2 linked regions of the Homo sapiens genome follow. The protein of the gene in region 1 interacts with the protein of each later gene in a pairwise test. Each region holds a gene or a part of one and is shown on either strand. Other genes may lie near its edges.

What was found.
Region 2: the proteins of LBHD1 (region 1) and ARCN1 interact in binary tests that used the Homo sapiens proteins (3 or more experiments, as listed by UniProt).

The regions. Positions count from the first base shown.
Region 1 is NC_000011.10:62,662,317-62,669,448, forward strand, and holds the end of LBHD1 (LBH domain-containing protein 1), read right to left. Parts: intron 5,793-7,132; exon of another isoform or gene 5,432-5,792; coding exon 5,207-5,431; exon of another isoform or gene 4,736-5,206; coding exon of another isoform or gene 4,080-4,735; intron 3,631-4,079; coding exon of another isoform or gene 3,195-3,630; exon of another isoform or gene 2,996-3,194; intron 2,901-2,995; exon of another isoform or gene 2,854-2,900; coding exon of another isoform or gene 2,815-2,853; exon of another isoform or gene 2,658-2,814; coding exon 2,533-2,657; intron 1,018-2,532; coding exon 920-1,017; intron 844-919; coding exon 813-843; coding exon of another isoform or gene 734-812; 3' UTR 501-733; downstream 1-500. Other genes in the region: uncharacterized protein C11orf98, read right to left, coding at 734-843, 920-1,017, 2,533-2,657, 2,815-2,853; CSKMT (citrate synthase-lysine N-methyltransferase CSKMT, mitochondrial), read left to right, coding at 3,195-3,630, 4,080-4,735.
Region 2 is NC_000011.10:118,582,202-118,589,565, forward strand, and holds part of ARCN1 (coatomer subunit delta), read left to right. Parts: intron 1-977; coding exon 978-1,157; intron 1,158-1,607; coding exon 1,608-1,813; intron 1,814-2,278; coding exon 2,279-2,443; intron 2,444-7,364. UniProt on the Homo sapiens protein: Component of the coatomer, a cytosolic protein complex that binds to dilysine motifs and reversibly associates with Golgi non-clathrin-coated vesicles, which further mediate biosynthetic protein transport from the ER, via the Golgi up to the trans Golgi network.

The sequences.
Region 1 (7,132 bases):
TGGCTCACTGTAACTTCAACTTCTCGAATAATCTGTATCTTTGTCATAAATGGAAAGTTAGAGTATCACTCACTAAGGAGACAGATGAGATCACAGCACACTACAGCCTTGAGTTCCTGGCCTCAAGCAATACCCCGGTAGGCAATCTCCGCCTCCCGGGTTCAAGCGATTCTCCTGCCTCAGCCTCCAAGTAGCTGGGATTACAGGCGTGCACCACCACGCCCGGCTAATTTTTTGTATTTTTAGTAGAAACGGGGTTAGCCAGGCTGGTCTCGAACTTGTGACCTCAGGTGATCCACCTGCCTCGGCCTCCCAAAGTGCTGGCATTAGAGGCGTGAGCCACTGCACCCGGCCAGGCACCACCACTCTTGAGGGCAGAGGCTGGCATCTTGTTGCATTTGCACAAGGAAGCTGTGGGTACTGCTTCCTCACTGTCTTGTTTCCATACTCCCCAATCTTTTCATGACCCATCCCCATTCCTACATTTAATCACACACATCTCAGAGTGCTAGGGCTTTATTACAAATGGAGTTGACTGCTAGAGAGGCCCTTCTCCAATCTTTCTTCTGTACCTTCTTCCCTCCCAAAGACATCCCTCTAGGGGAGGTCAGTAGGCCATTAGGTAGGAGGAAATCTGGAGAGTGAAAAGGGGCCTTGCTTTTGTCAAAGTCCTCTGAAACAACCACTGAGTCTGAAGGCTGGCTCCAGTTGAGAATCTTCTAGTGGAAGAGGTTTAGCTCTCATCTTCAAGGTCCTTCATTTCTACATCCTGGGGGGCTTTTGTCTTCTTTTGCCTTTTGAGCTGTGGTTCACTAGTCCTGGCTGGCTTTGAAGGGGCTTCCACTGAGTAAAGGGAAGAAGGAAGTATTATCCCAAATAAATCCAGGATTCCCCTCACCCACCTCTGTCCCAGCCTCACCTTCCATGGCTGTCTTCTCTTTCTGGGCAAGCCGGATCTGCTGGAGGAGTTTTCTGCGCTTCTTCCCTGACAGTGTAATGTTGGCACGTGCACTGGACCTGATGGGTAAGTGGAAATAAAGAGAGCTAGGTTAACCTGAACCAACTGAGGTCACACAAATAGTTCTGGCTATAGAAAAAGTATTAAATAGGCTGGGCGCAGTGGCTCACGCCTGTAATCCCAGCACTTTGGGAGGCCGAGGCGGCTGGATCACGAGGTCAGGAGATCGAGACCACGGTGAAACCCTGTCTCTACTAAAAATACAAAACATTAGCTGGGCGCAGTGGCGGGCGCCTGTAGTCCCAGCTACTCGGGAGGCTGCGGCAGGAGAATGGCGTGAACCCAGAAGGCGGAGCTTGCAGTGAGCCGAGATCGCGCCACTGCACTCCAGCCTGGGCGACAAAGCGAGACTCCGTCTCAAAAAAAAAAAAAAAAGGAAAAGTATTAAATAAATATAATATAAATAGTAATAGAAACCCTAAATATTTACATTGAAGAAGCTAATGAAAGGACATAGATCGGGGGCGGTGGCTTATGCCTGTAATCCCAACACTTTGGGAGGCTGAGGTGGGCGGATCACCTGAGGTCAGGAGTTCAAGACCAGCCTGGCCAACATGGTGAAACCCCGTCTCTACTAAAAATACAAAAATTAGCCGGGTGCAGTGGGGAGCACCTGTAATCCCAGCTACTCGGGAGGCTGAGGCAAGAGAATAGCTTAAACCCAGGAGGCAGGGGTTGCAGTGAGCCGAGATCATGCCACTTCACTCCAGCCTGGGCAACAGAGGGAGACTCTGTCTCAAAAAAGAGGAAAAAAAAAAAAAAAAAAAAAAAGGACACAGAAAGTAATTAATGGGATGGGAACTCTTCCTCAAGACACAGGAGGCCTTGAAACTTACAAGTGAAATCCTATGAGTGCCTTTGGGAAAATTCTTCGAGTTTTATGCGCCTATGTGTGCACTTTTCTGTATGTAAAAATAAGTTTACTTATAAAAATCTGTGTGAATGTATAACATTACTTGGAGAATGGAGAGCCAACAGATTTCCTGATATTCTTTTTTTTTTTTTTTTTTTTTTGAGACGGAGTCTCACTCTGTGGCCCAGGCTGGAGTGCAGTGGCGTGATCTCGGCTCACTGCAACCTCCGCCTCCCAGGTTCAAGCAATTCTCCTGCCTCAGCCTCCCGTGTAGCTGGGACTACAGGTGCCGGCCACAACGCCTGGCTAATTTTTGTATTTTTAGCAAAAACGGGGTTTCACCATGTTGGTCAGGCTGGTCTCGAACTCCCGACCTCAGGTGATCCGCCCACCTCAGCCCCCCAAAGTGCTGGGATTACAGGTATGAGCCACCATCCCCGGCTTTCCTGAGATTCTTAACAGAATCCAAAACCCAAAGAAAGGTTGTCTGCTACAGGTATTGTGAGAGGCTATCAGAGCTTAGGAACTAACAGCCGACAGACATTCCCCGCATAAGCGTCAGTGCACAAGGTGAGCTGAGAGGTGAAGCTGCTCCGGAGCTCTGCAGGGAGGAAGGAAGACTCGGTGGGGACGACCAACAGGAAGAGGGTCTAGTACTTACGCCCGCTTCTTGAGGTGGTGCCGCGTGATCAGCCCTTGGTCTATCACAGCCCCGACCACCCGGTGCCTCAGACGCCGCTCCCGATTCAACACCCGCCGGCGTTTGAACAGCTTCTTCTTCAGCTCCTGCCGGGGAGAAAGATGCGAATCAGATGGAGTGGGCTCGCCGCGACCCGGGGCCCCTCCACCAGGCAGCCCCGGCCCCTCACTGATCCCATCTCGTGCGAGATAAAAGGGCTCAGGAACGCTTGAGGAAACAAAGTCGCGGCCCCCACACAGTCACCGTTCGGGGCCGGTTGATCTTTCCCCCCGGAGCTCCCATAGTCGCGATTCCACTCCAGTTCACGGTCCGTACTTCCGCTCAGCGCCGGATCCGCGGGGCTCCGCCCCGGCCTTCCGCGGGCCAATCGCAACTCGGGGGCGGGTCCTCGGGCTATATAAAGGAGCTCCGCGGTGCGGGAGGCCTTTCGGAGGGTGGTGAGCTAGTAAGTGTGGTTTTAGCTGTAGTAGCCAGATTGGGCGGCCGGGAGTGGTGGGGGTGCCGGGTGGAAGGCTCTGGGCGGGGTCTCAGGACCCTCCTTTTCTTGGCGGGGATCGGGCTTGTGGTGCCGCTCCCCGTAATGTACGGAGGAAGAGGGAAAGGGCTCTGGCCCCCTCGGCGTCATGTCTTCGGTGCTGGCGGCTTCCCATCCGCTGGTTCTATCCTCAAACGCCGGGACACCGGGAATCTCGGAGAAGGACAACCGAGATCCAGCTGGCTCCTCCATCGGGGTGCTCACACTTTCTCATTTGATTTCAGGTCTGCGGACGCTGTATACCCTCCTCCACTTCCCGCTGCAGCCAATAAAGGCCGTTCCTACCATAGTCTGTGTCCGCGTTCTTTTTTCCGGGACTGCAGAGTTCGGGGAAGCTGTACGCCGCCTTTCGCTACGCGGAATTTGCAGATCTTCCCCTGGACCTCAGGCCTCTCCGGCTGGAGTAGGGTGGACGCTTCACATAAGCTTCTCTGGTCGAACTTACCCGAATCTCCAGATGGCCGCGCTGCGTCGAATGCTCCACTTGCCGAGCCTGATGATGGGGACGTGCCGCCCCTTTGCGGGTAGGGAGGTGGGGGCAGAGTGGAGAGGGCAAGGTGGGGGCAGAGTGGGGAGGGTAAGGTGGGTTCCTCGTGAGTCAGGAGTGTAGTCCCTGAAATTGTGATTCTCAAACCCTACGGTGGGCCGTGCGTGGTGGCTCACGGCTGTAATGCTAACACTTTGCCAGGCCGAGGCGGGCAGATCGCTTGGCCCAGGAGTTCGAGACCAACCTAGGGCAACATAGCGAGACCCTGTCTACAAAAAAAATTAACCGGGCACGATGGCGCCTATAGTCCTAGCTACTCAGGAGGCTGAGGTGGAGGCTTCAGTGAGCCATCATTGTGCTACTGTACTCAACCCTGGGTCACAGAGTGAGACCCTGTCTCAAAAAAAAAAAAGACGCCAGTGTGTATATACGACGTTTTTGCAGTGGCGACATAGACCAAGTGACACCCTCCAACCGTGCCCACAGGCTCACTGGCTGATAGTTGCCTGGCGGACCGCTGTCTCTGGGATCGGCTGCATGCCCAGCCTCGTTTGGGCACTGTCCCCACCTTCGACTGGTTCTTTGGATACGACGAAGTCCAGGGGCTCCTACTGCCATTGCTGCAGGAGGCACAGGCTGCCAGTCCTCTGCGAGTGCTGGATGTGGGCTGTGGGACTTCCAGCCTATGTACAGGCCTCTACACCAAATCTCCACACCCAGTGGATGTGCTGGGGGTGGACTTTTCTCCTGTGGCTGTGGCCCACATGAATAGCCTCCTGGAGGGTGGCCCAGGCCAAACACCTCTATGCCCTGGACACCCTGCCTCAAGCCTCCACTTCATGCACGCCGATGCTCAGAACCTGGGGGCTGTGGCTTCTTCAGGCTCTTTCCAACTACTGCTGGACAAAGGCACATGGGATGCTGTTGCCCGGGGAGGTCTGCCTAGGGCTTACCAGCTTCTATCAGAATGCTTGAGGGTTCTAAACCCTCAGGGGACCCTGATTCAGTTCTCAGATGAGGACCCTGATGTGCGACTGCCCTGCCTGGAACAAGGGTCCTATGGCTGGACTGTGACTGTGCAGGAGCTAGGCCCGTTCAGGGGCATCACCTACTTTGCTTACTTGATTCAAGGCTCTCATTAAAGACATTTTAGTAGTCCTGACCCTAGTATTTCTGTGGGCAAGGAGAGGGCTGAAGAACTGTCTTTGCAAGCTATCTGGCTGCAAAGTGAGAATTTGAGTCCTGGCTTCCACATTTACTAGCTGGGTGCCATATTGCTGAATGTTTCTGTTCCCCAGTTTACTCATCTGCAGAGTGAGAATAACTTGGAGTTACGGAGATTACATACAATGATGTGCGCAATATTTAGCACAAAATGAATGCTGAAAAGAGAAGGTACAATTGGGTCATTCCCCAGTTTCAACTAACTGGAGCTCCTAAAAGCAGCAGACAGGAACTGAATCAAAACCCCTGCGCTGACTGACTTGTATAATCTAGTGGCCTAACCTGTAAGCCTCATTTTTGTCACCTGTAAAAGGAGATTGTAAGAGGATGGGTATAAGGAGCTTCATAAACCTGGATGAGATATTTGAGGGGGAGGGAACAATACTTACCCTCAAAGCTATTAGGAGGCAGGAGATGGGAATATTCCACAAAGCCACTTCTACAAACACGGGAGCCTGTTGAGTCCCAGAAGGGACAGTGGTTGGTGGCTTCCAGACATGCTGTGTCCTCAAGAATCCAACAAGCATCTTCTTCATCCTGGTCCTGCCCCCAGCTGAGTCCAGCGTTAAATGTTCTTAAAGGACTTCTAGGGTCCTGTGGGCTCCAAGCCCAGCCTGGGATGGAGGAAGAGAGGGGACAAAAATATTACTGATATATTATCAAATTACAAAACTAGGCCAGGCATGCTGGCTCATACCTATAATCACAGCACTTTGGGAGGCCAAGGTGGGCAGATTGCTTGAGCCCTGGCAATAAAGTGACACCCCTAACTCTACAAAAACAAATGAGCCCGGGATAGTGGCACAGGCATGTAGTTCCAACTACTCAGGAGGCTGAGCTGGGAGGACTGCTTGAACCCTGGGAGGTCAAAGCTGCAATGGGCCATGATAAGCTGCTGCACTTGAGCTAAAAATTAATTTCTGTGGTATTTTTTGCTTATAAAAAAATAGAGCAATTATATCACTAAGAGCCTAACCTCGCAGCCTCAATTTTCTCATTTATAAAGGGGAAGTACCTTCATTGGGTTGTTCTGAAAATCATGAAGTAAAAGTGTTTAGCATAGTACCTGGTACATAGTAAATGCTCAAAAGAATGTAGCTTCTTGGGAGGCTGAGGCGGGCAGATTGCCTGAGCTCAGGAGTTTGAGACCAGCCTGGGCAATATGGTGAAACCCCATCTCTACTAAAATACAAAAAAAATTAGTCGGGCGTGGTGGCCTGAACCTGTAGCCCCAGCTACTCAGGAGGCTGAGGCAGGAGACTTGCTTGGACCTGGGAGGCAGAGGTTGCAGTAAGCCGAGATCCTGCCACTGCACTCCGCCTGGGCAACAGAGGGTGACTCTGTCTCAAAAAAAAAAAAAAAAAAAAAAGTAGCTTCTGTAACAGTACACAGACGGGGCCGGGCGCGGTGGCTCACGCCTGTAATCCCAGCACTTTGAGAGGCCCAGGCAGGCGGATCACAAGGTAAGGAGATCCTGGCGAACAAAGTGAAACCCTGTCTCTACTAAAAATACAAAAAAATTAGCTGGGCGTGGTGGCGGGTGCCTGTAGTCCCAGCTACTCGGGAGGCTGAGGCAGGAGAATGGCACGAACCCAGGAGGCAGGGCTTGCAGTGAGCAGAGGTCATTGCCACTGCACTCCAGCCTGGGGGACAGAGCAAGACTCTGTCTCAAAAAAAAAAACCAAAACCAAAACAAACAAACAAAAAAACAGTACACAGAGATGAAAAAAGTCTAGAAGAGAAGGTATCGAATATGTAAACTATTTTTAGGTAGTTGGTCTTGGGGTAATTTTTTTTGTTTTTTGTTTTTTTTGAGGCAGAATCTGGCTCTTGCCCAGGCTGGAGTGCAGTGGTGGGATCTCAGCTTACTGCAAACTCCACATCCCGGGTTCACGCCATTCTCCTGCCTCCCGAGTAGCTGGGACTACAGGCGCCCGCCACCACGCCCGGCTAATTTTTTGTATTTTTAGTAGAGACGGGGTTTCACCATGTTAGCCAGGATGGTCTCGATCTCCTGACCTTGTGATCTGCCCGCCTCAGCCTCCCAAAGTGCTGGGATTACAGGCGTGAGCCACCGCGGCCAGCCTTAATCTGTACTTTCAAAATGTTTACATTGCTGCAGGAAAAGATAAAATTACCCCAAGACTGGCCGGCTTGGGAGGCTGAGGCAGGAGAATGGCGTGAACCCAGGAGGCGGAGCTTGCAGTGAGCTGAGATCGCGCCACTGCACTCCAGTCTGGGTGACAGAGCGAGACTCAGTCTCAAAAAAAAAAAAAAGAAGAAAAAGAAAGTACAGATTAAAGGATGGCACCCAT
Region 2 (7,364 bases), about 56 Mb from region 1:
GTGCAATCTCGGCTCACTGCAACCTCCACCTCCCAGGTTCAAGCAATTTTCTGGCCTCAGCCTCCCGAGTAGTTGAGATTACAGATGTGCATCGCCATGCCTGGCTAATTTTTGTACGGGGTTTCACCATGTTGGCCAGGCTGGTCTCGAACTCCTGACCTCAGGTGATCTGCCTATCTTGGCGTCCCGAAGTGCTGGGATTACAGGCATGAGCCGCTGCACCCGGCTGTAAGAATCAGGGTCTTGGGCGTGGTGGCTCACGCTTGTAATCCCAGCACTTTGGGAGGCTGAGGCGGGTGGATCACCTGAGGTCAGAAGTTTGAGACCAGCCTGACCAACGTGGTGAAACCTCGTCTCTACTCAAAATACAAAAAAATTAGCTGGGCATGGTGGCGGGCACCCATAATCCTACTACTCAGGAGGCTGAGGCATGAGAATTGCGTGAACCCAGGAGGTGGGGGTTGCAGTGAGCCGAGATCGTGCCACTGCACTCCAGACCGGGTGACAGAGTTAGACTTTGTCTTAAAAAAAAAAAAAAAAAAAAAATCAGGGAGTTAGGCTGGGCGCAGTGGCTCACGCCTGTAATCCCAGCAGTTTGGGAGACTGAGGCAAGCGGATCACCTGAGGTCAGGAGTTCAACACCAGCCTGGCCAACATGGTGAAACCCCGTCTCTACTAAAAATACAAAAATTAGCTGGGCGTGGTGGTACACACCTGTAGTCCCAGCTACTCCGGAAGCTGAGGCAGGAGAATCACTTAAACCCAGGAGATGGAGGTTGCAGTGAGCCGAGATGGCACCACTGCACTCCAGCGTGGGCAGCAGAGCGAGACTCTGTCCCAAAAAATAAAATAAAGACTAGAAGTAGCTAATAAAGGGATTTAGGTTATTGAAATTTATGTACTCTAAAGGATAAGACTTGGAAATATAGCTGCTGATAAATTCTAAATCTTTCTTTTTTATTGGTGTCCACGCTTAGATCCCTGAATATTGCCGAGCCTTAGAAGAGAATGAAATATCTGAGCACTGTTTTGATTTGATTTTTGCTTTTGATGAAATTGTCGCACTGGGATACCGGGAGAATGTTAACTTGGCACAGATCAGAACCTTCACAGAAATGGATTCTCATGAGGAGAAGGTGTTCAGAGCCGTCAGAGAGGTAAATAGGATCTTCTCTGGGACTACCTGTTTGTATGTCTTTCTCTTAGGCTTCACTAATCTCATTTTCCTATTTTTACTTACTAATGTAGACTGTATTCAAAACTATGTCCAGGCTAGGCACAGTGGCTCATGTCTGTAATCTCAGCACTTTGGGAGGCGGAAGTGGGAGTATCACTTGAGTCCAGGAGTTCAAGACCAGACTGGACAGCGTAGTGAGACCCTGTCTCTATAAAAAGTAAAAAAAAAATTAGCCAGGCATGGTAGCACGTGCATGTGGGTCCCAGCTACTTGGGAGGCTGAGATGGGAGGATCACTTGAGCCCAGGAAGTTGAGGCTGCAGTGAGCTGTGATTGTGCCACTTGCACTCCAGCCTGGGTCACAGAGTGAGACCCTGTCTCAACAAAAACCCAAAAAAAAAAGCTACATTAATGTATGTCTTTTTCTGTAGACTCAAGAACGTGAAGCTAAGGCTGAGATGCGTCGTAAAGCAAAGGAATTACAACAGGCCCGAAGAGATGCAGAGAGACAGGGCAAAAAAGCACCAGGATTTGGCGGATTTGGCAGCTCTGCAGTATCTGGAGGCAGCACAGCTGCCATGATCACAGAGACCATCATTGAAACTGATAAACCAAAAGTGGCACCTGCACCAGCCAGGTATAATCCAGTGTACTTTAGAATACCAGGTGAAGGGTGTATATGTGTCTATCTTTGAAGTCATAATCTGATTTCTTGGAAAGCTGTAAATAAAGAAGGACTTGATGAAGTAAGATATGATGTTACATTTGGCCACATACAATATGAGGATAAAGAAGAAATCTGAATGTGGTGTTTTTCCTTTTGTATAAAAGAGAGTTATAAATTATGTCATGACCTCAGTTTCCTATGAGAGTTGCCTTATTGTGGGGAGGAAAGGGCTATTTAATGCTTTATGGAATGTAGATTTTTAATCTTGATGTTCATTGATTGATTTTAGGGGAAATCTGTGAATTACCCAAAATTATATACAAAATTTTGTGCACAGGTGTATTTCTCTGGACGGGAGATACAAAATTTTCATCAGATCATGTGTGCTTGTAAAAATAAACCTTTGGGTAATGAATTTCAAATTCTTCCACTTAGGCCTTCAGGCCCCAGCAAGGCTTTAAAACTTGGAGCCAAAGGAAAGGAAGTAGATAACTTTGTGGACAAATTAAAATCTGAAGGTGAAACCATCATGTCCTCTAGTATGGGCAAGCGTACTTCTGAAGCAACCAAAATGCATGCTCCACCCATTAATATGGAAAGGTAAGTAGGAACTTTGAGTAAGAATTCAAGCTTTGAATACAGTCCACATAATTTTTTAAAAATCTTATTTCAGTGTGCTATAAATTCTTTCTCTGTCTTTTAATCGTTCCTGATTTAAAAGATTTATTCAGAGCAGATTCTACATATTAACATAAGATCGTTTTTGGTTTTGTTTTGTTTTATTTACTTATTTTTTTTTGAGATGGAGTCTCACTCTGTCACCCAGGCTGGAGTGCAGTGGTGTGATCTCGGCTCGCTGCAAGCTCTCCCTCCCAGGTTCACGCCATTCTCCTGCCTCAGCCTCCCGAGTAGCTGGGACCACAGGCGCCCACCCCTACGCCCGGCTAATTTTTTTGTATTTTTAGTAGAGATGGGGTTTCGCCGTGTTAGCCAGAATGGTCTCGATCTCCTGACCTTGTGATCCGCCTGACTCAGCCTCCCGAAGTGCTGGGATTACAGGCGTGAGCCACCACGCCCGGCTGTTGTTTTGTTTTATTTTTTTGAGACAGGGTCTTACTATGTTGTCTAGGCTGGCCTCCAACTCCTGAGCTCAGTTAATCTTCCTGCCTCAGCCTCCCAAGTAACTGGGATACAGGCATGCGTTGCTGCACCTGACCTTTTCCTTTTTCCTTAAACCATGATTGGGGGCCCTCAGCCACCTATTTTCTATGAAGTTTAGAACTTTCCTTTTACAGCTAAATTAAAGTTACTTGTAGTCACACCTGGTATATAGCGTATCTCTTAGAATGCACTTGAATTAGGGGACTAGAGCTATGGTGACCCCACACTGTATTTTGGCATGACTTTTTCTAATTAAAGTCTAAGTAGAACCAATCTTTAATCCAAAACTTGTAGATATCTTTAATAGCAAATTAATATATTTTGCATTTTTATTTTATTTATTTATTTTTTTGAGATGGGGTTTCACTCTGTCACCCAGGCTGGAGTACAGTGGTGCAATCTCAGCTTGTTGCAACCTCTGCCTCCCAGGTTCAAGTGATTCTCCCACCTCAGCCTCCCAAGTAGCTGGGACTACAGGCATGCACCACCACGCTGGGCTAATTTCTGTATTTTGGTAGAGATGGGGTTTTGCCTTGTTGCCCAGGCTGGTCTCGAACTCCTGGACTCAAGCAATCTGCCTGCCTCGGCCTCACAAAGTACTGGGATTACAGGCGTCAGCCACCATGCCCAGCCATCTTTTGCAGTTTAAATATTTGAAGCCAGTATGGAATATTTTGATTCATCTCTTATCTCAGGGCTGTGGTACTGGTTGGTGACATTTTTAAGTGGTAGTTATCAAGTTCACATATTCGTGACTCAGATTTCTCGTCTTGAAGCCAGACCTTCTACTGTTGCTGATGGTTTTGAGGTCAAGTGAAAGATAATACCAGGAGGATACCTTTATCAGGTGTGCATAAAAGAGGAGTATTTACTCTTTTTCTTTCTTCTTTCCTTTCTTTCTTCCTTTCTTTCTTTCTTGACAGAGTCTTGCTCTGTCTCCCAGACTGGAGTGCAATGGCACGATCTTGCAACCTCCACCTCCCGGGGTCAAGCAATTCTCCTGCCTCAGCCTCCCAAGTGGCTGGGATTACAGGTGCACGCCATCACACCCGGCTAATTTTCTTATTTTTAGTAGAGACAGAGTTTTGCCGTGTTGGCCAGGTGGGTCTCGAACTCCTGACCTCAAGTGATCTGCCTGCCTCTGCCTCCCAAAAGTGCTTGGATTATAGGCGTGAGCCACCGTGCCCAGCCAAGTATTTACTCTTTATATGCCCTGTTCTGTATGAAATGAACAGGGTTACATTGGGATAAATTTCTTGATTCACTAAAGCCGCTGTGCTCTTCCTAGTGGTTGCTTTGAGTGAGACAGAGGCTTCACACTTTTAAAAAGATATTCCTGAGTGCAGTGGCCCACACCTGTAATCTTAGCACTTTGGGAGGCTGAGGTGGGCGGATTGCCTGAGCTCAGGAGTTCAAGACCACCCTGGGCAACATGGTGAAACTCCATCTCCACTAAAATACAAAAAATTAACCCCTTCTCCACTAAAATACAAAAAATTAGATGGGCGTGGTGGCACACACCTGTAGTCCCAGCTACTCAGGAGGCTGAGGCAGGAGAATTGCTTGAACCCGGGAAGCAGAGGTTGCAGTGAGCCAAGATGGTGCCACTGCACTCCAGCCTGGGCGACAGAGTGAGACTCTATCTCCAAAAAAAAAAAAAAAAAAAAAATGTTGGAGATCATCACATATTAAAGAGAATTTGAGACACTGTTTTTTTCTAAATGATAAATTGCCTCTTGAGCACAGAGCAAACTTTTGTGAAGGTAAAATGGTACCATGCATTGTCTTAAGATGCACTCCTTTATGGTCTTGACTCTGATGCCTTTGTTTCTAGGAAGACCTAAGAGGTTGGAACAAAGAACATGGTAGGATAACAAAATATTTTTTGTAGCCTCTGTAGTTCATCCAGCCAAACGTATGTCTATTACTGAATATGAATAGATTGTACTTAATACTTGCCTCTAGCAGCAGCAGTTTTTAATCTTTTAAAAATTGGATTATACATTCATATAGTACAAAATTCAAAAGTTGTTAACAGTCAGAAGTCTTCCTCTCACTCAGCCATGCCAGTTTCTCATTTTGGAGACAACTAGTATTAACAGAGTTTTTTGTGTATCCTTCTAAGGGGGATGGTCTGTGATATACAGATGAATAAAAAACATGTATACAGTGTGTCTATTTTTCCCCCTTTTATGCAAAGCAGTAAAACTAGACACGTCTTCCAATTGCATTTTTCATTTAATTATTTTGGAGATAAGAATCTCCTTATTTGAAACTGCAGAGATATGACATCTAAATGCGCAATACCTTACCCTAGACTGGATCCTCTACTAATGTAGTGTAGAAAAAACAACTCAAACTGTTTGTTTTTTCTATTTTCTCATTCAACAGCAACAATGAACACAGAAGACTTCTGTGATCAAGTGTGTTTAGATTTTTCCGCACACATCAAGCGGTCACACCTAGCTGGTGTCCTCCAATTCAATTCAATTCTGATGCTATCTACCTGGGAATAGCCTCAGATTCTACAGGTTGAGAGTTCAGTCCCCCAAGACTGATTCTTCCTTCCCACCAGTCATAAGTCCAGACTTTCAGAACTTCTTACTGACCTCAAGTTTGGCCTCCCACGACCCCCTCTGGGGTGTTCAATTAATCTGCTAGAGCACCTCACAGAACTCAGGGAAACTTACTTGACATTTATCAGTTTGTTACAGAGGACATTTTAAAGGATGCAAATAAGCAGCCAGATGAAGAGATACATAGGGCAAGGTCTGGGAGGGTCTTGAGCACAGGAGCTTCTGTCCCCAGGGAGCTGGGGTACGCCACCCTCCTGGAAAATAGATGAGACCTTGTTCATCTTCCTGTAAGCCTGCATGTGTTCAGCTGTCCAGAAGCTTCCCAGACCCTGTCCTCTTGAGCCTTTTATGGAGACTTCATTGGATAGGCATGATTGACAGGCATGCAGAAATGTGACTGGGCAAGGGTATGACCTAATACTGATAGGCTGAGTGGGGAAACACAGCAAGGCCTGTCCAAATTCTTGGCCTCTCTGTGCAGCATTAATCTTCCTCCAGGATATGGTGCAGGACCCCTTTTGGAGATCCTGCCTTGGGCTGGTGAAAGGAGGGCAGGAGAAGGTCAAAGAGAGGTTCTTTTTTCTAAGGGCTGCTCCTGAGGCCTAAAGTGCCCCAACATTATGTATAATAAGGGATATGGGAGTTATGAGCTAGGAACCATGGATGAAAACCGGTATGTATGTATATCATAATATCACAACTACTATTAAAAATATTATTAGGTCAACTGACGAAATTGACATATGGTTGACAGATCGGATACAATTATTGTATCATTGTTAGCCTGGCATGATGGCACATGGCTGTAGTCCTTCCTACTCAGGAGGCTGAGGCAGGAGGATCACTTGAGACCAGGAGTTCAAGGTTATAGTGAACTGTGATTGTGTCTCTGAATAGCCACTGCACTCCAGCCTGGGCAACATAGCAAGATCTGTCTCTTAAACAACAACAACAGGCTGGGTGCGGTGGCTCACGCCTGTAATCCCAACACTTCGGGAGGCCGAGGCAGGCAGATCACCTGAGGTCAGGAGTTCAAGACCAGCCTGGCCAGCATGGTAAAACTCTGACTCTAGTAAAAATACAAAAATGAACCGGGCGTGGTGGCAGGTGCCTGAAATCCCAGCTACGCAGGAGGCTGAGACAGGAGAATCACTTGAACCCGGGAGGCAGAGGTTGCAGTGAGCCGAGATCACGCCATTGCACTCCAGCCTGGGCAAGAAGAGTGAAACTCTATCTCAAAACAACAACAACAAAAAGCTAAAAAAACTATCAGTGTAAATTTGTGAAGTTAATAATGGTACTGTGATTGATTATGTAAGAGAATATCCCTAATCTTATAAAATAAGCACTGAAGTATTTAGGGGTAAAGTGCCGTGTTGTATATAATCTGCTTCTTAATGGTTCAGGGAAAAAAAATCAAATGTATAACATACATATATAATGTTTAGAGAGAGAGAAACACAAGTGCAAATTATAAAACAAATGAGGTAAATATTAACAATAGGTGAATCTGGAAAAGGGTATATATGTCTTCCTTGTATAATTTTAATTTTTTTAAGCTTGAAAATACTTACAAATAGAAAGTTTTTTCAGTTGTTTGTTTTCTCACCATTGCCTACTATTCATTCGGGTGGATATGCCTTTATTTTTTATTTTTTATTTTTTTGAGACAGAGTCTCACTCTGTTGCCCAGGCTGGAGTGCAGTGGCACCATCTCGGCTCACTGCAAGCTCCGCCTCCTGAGTTCACGTCATTCTCCCACCTCAGCCTCCTGAGTAGGCGCC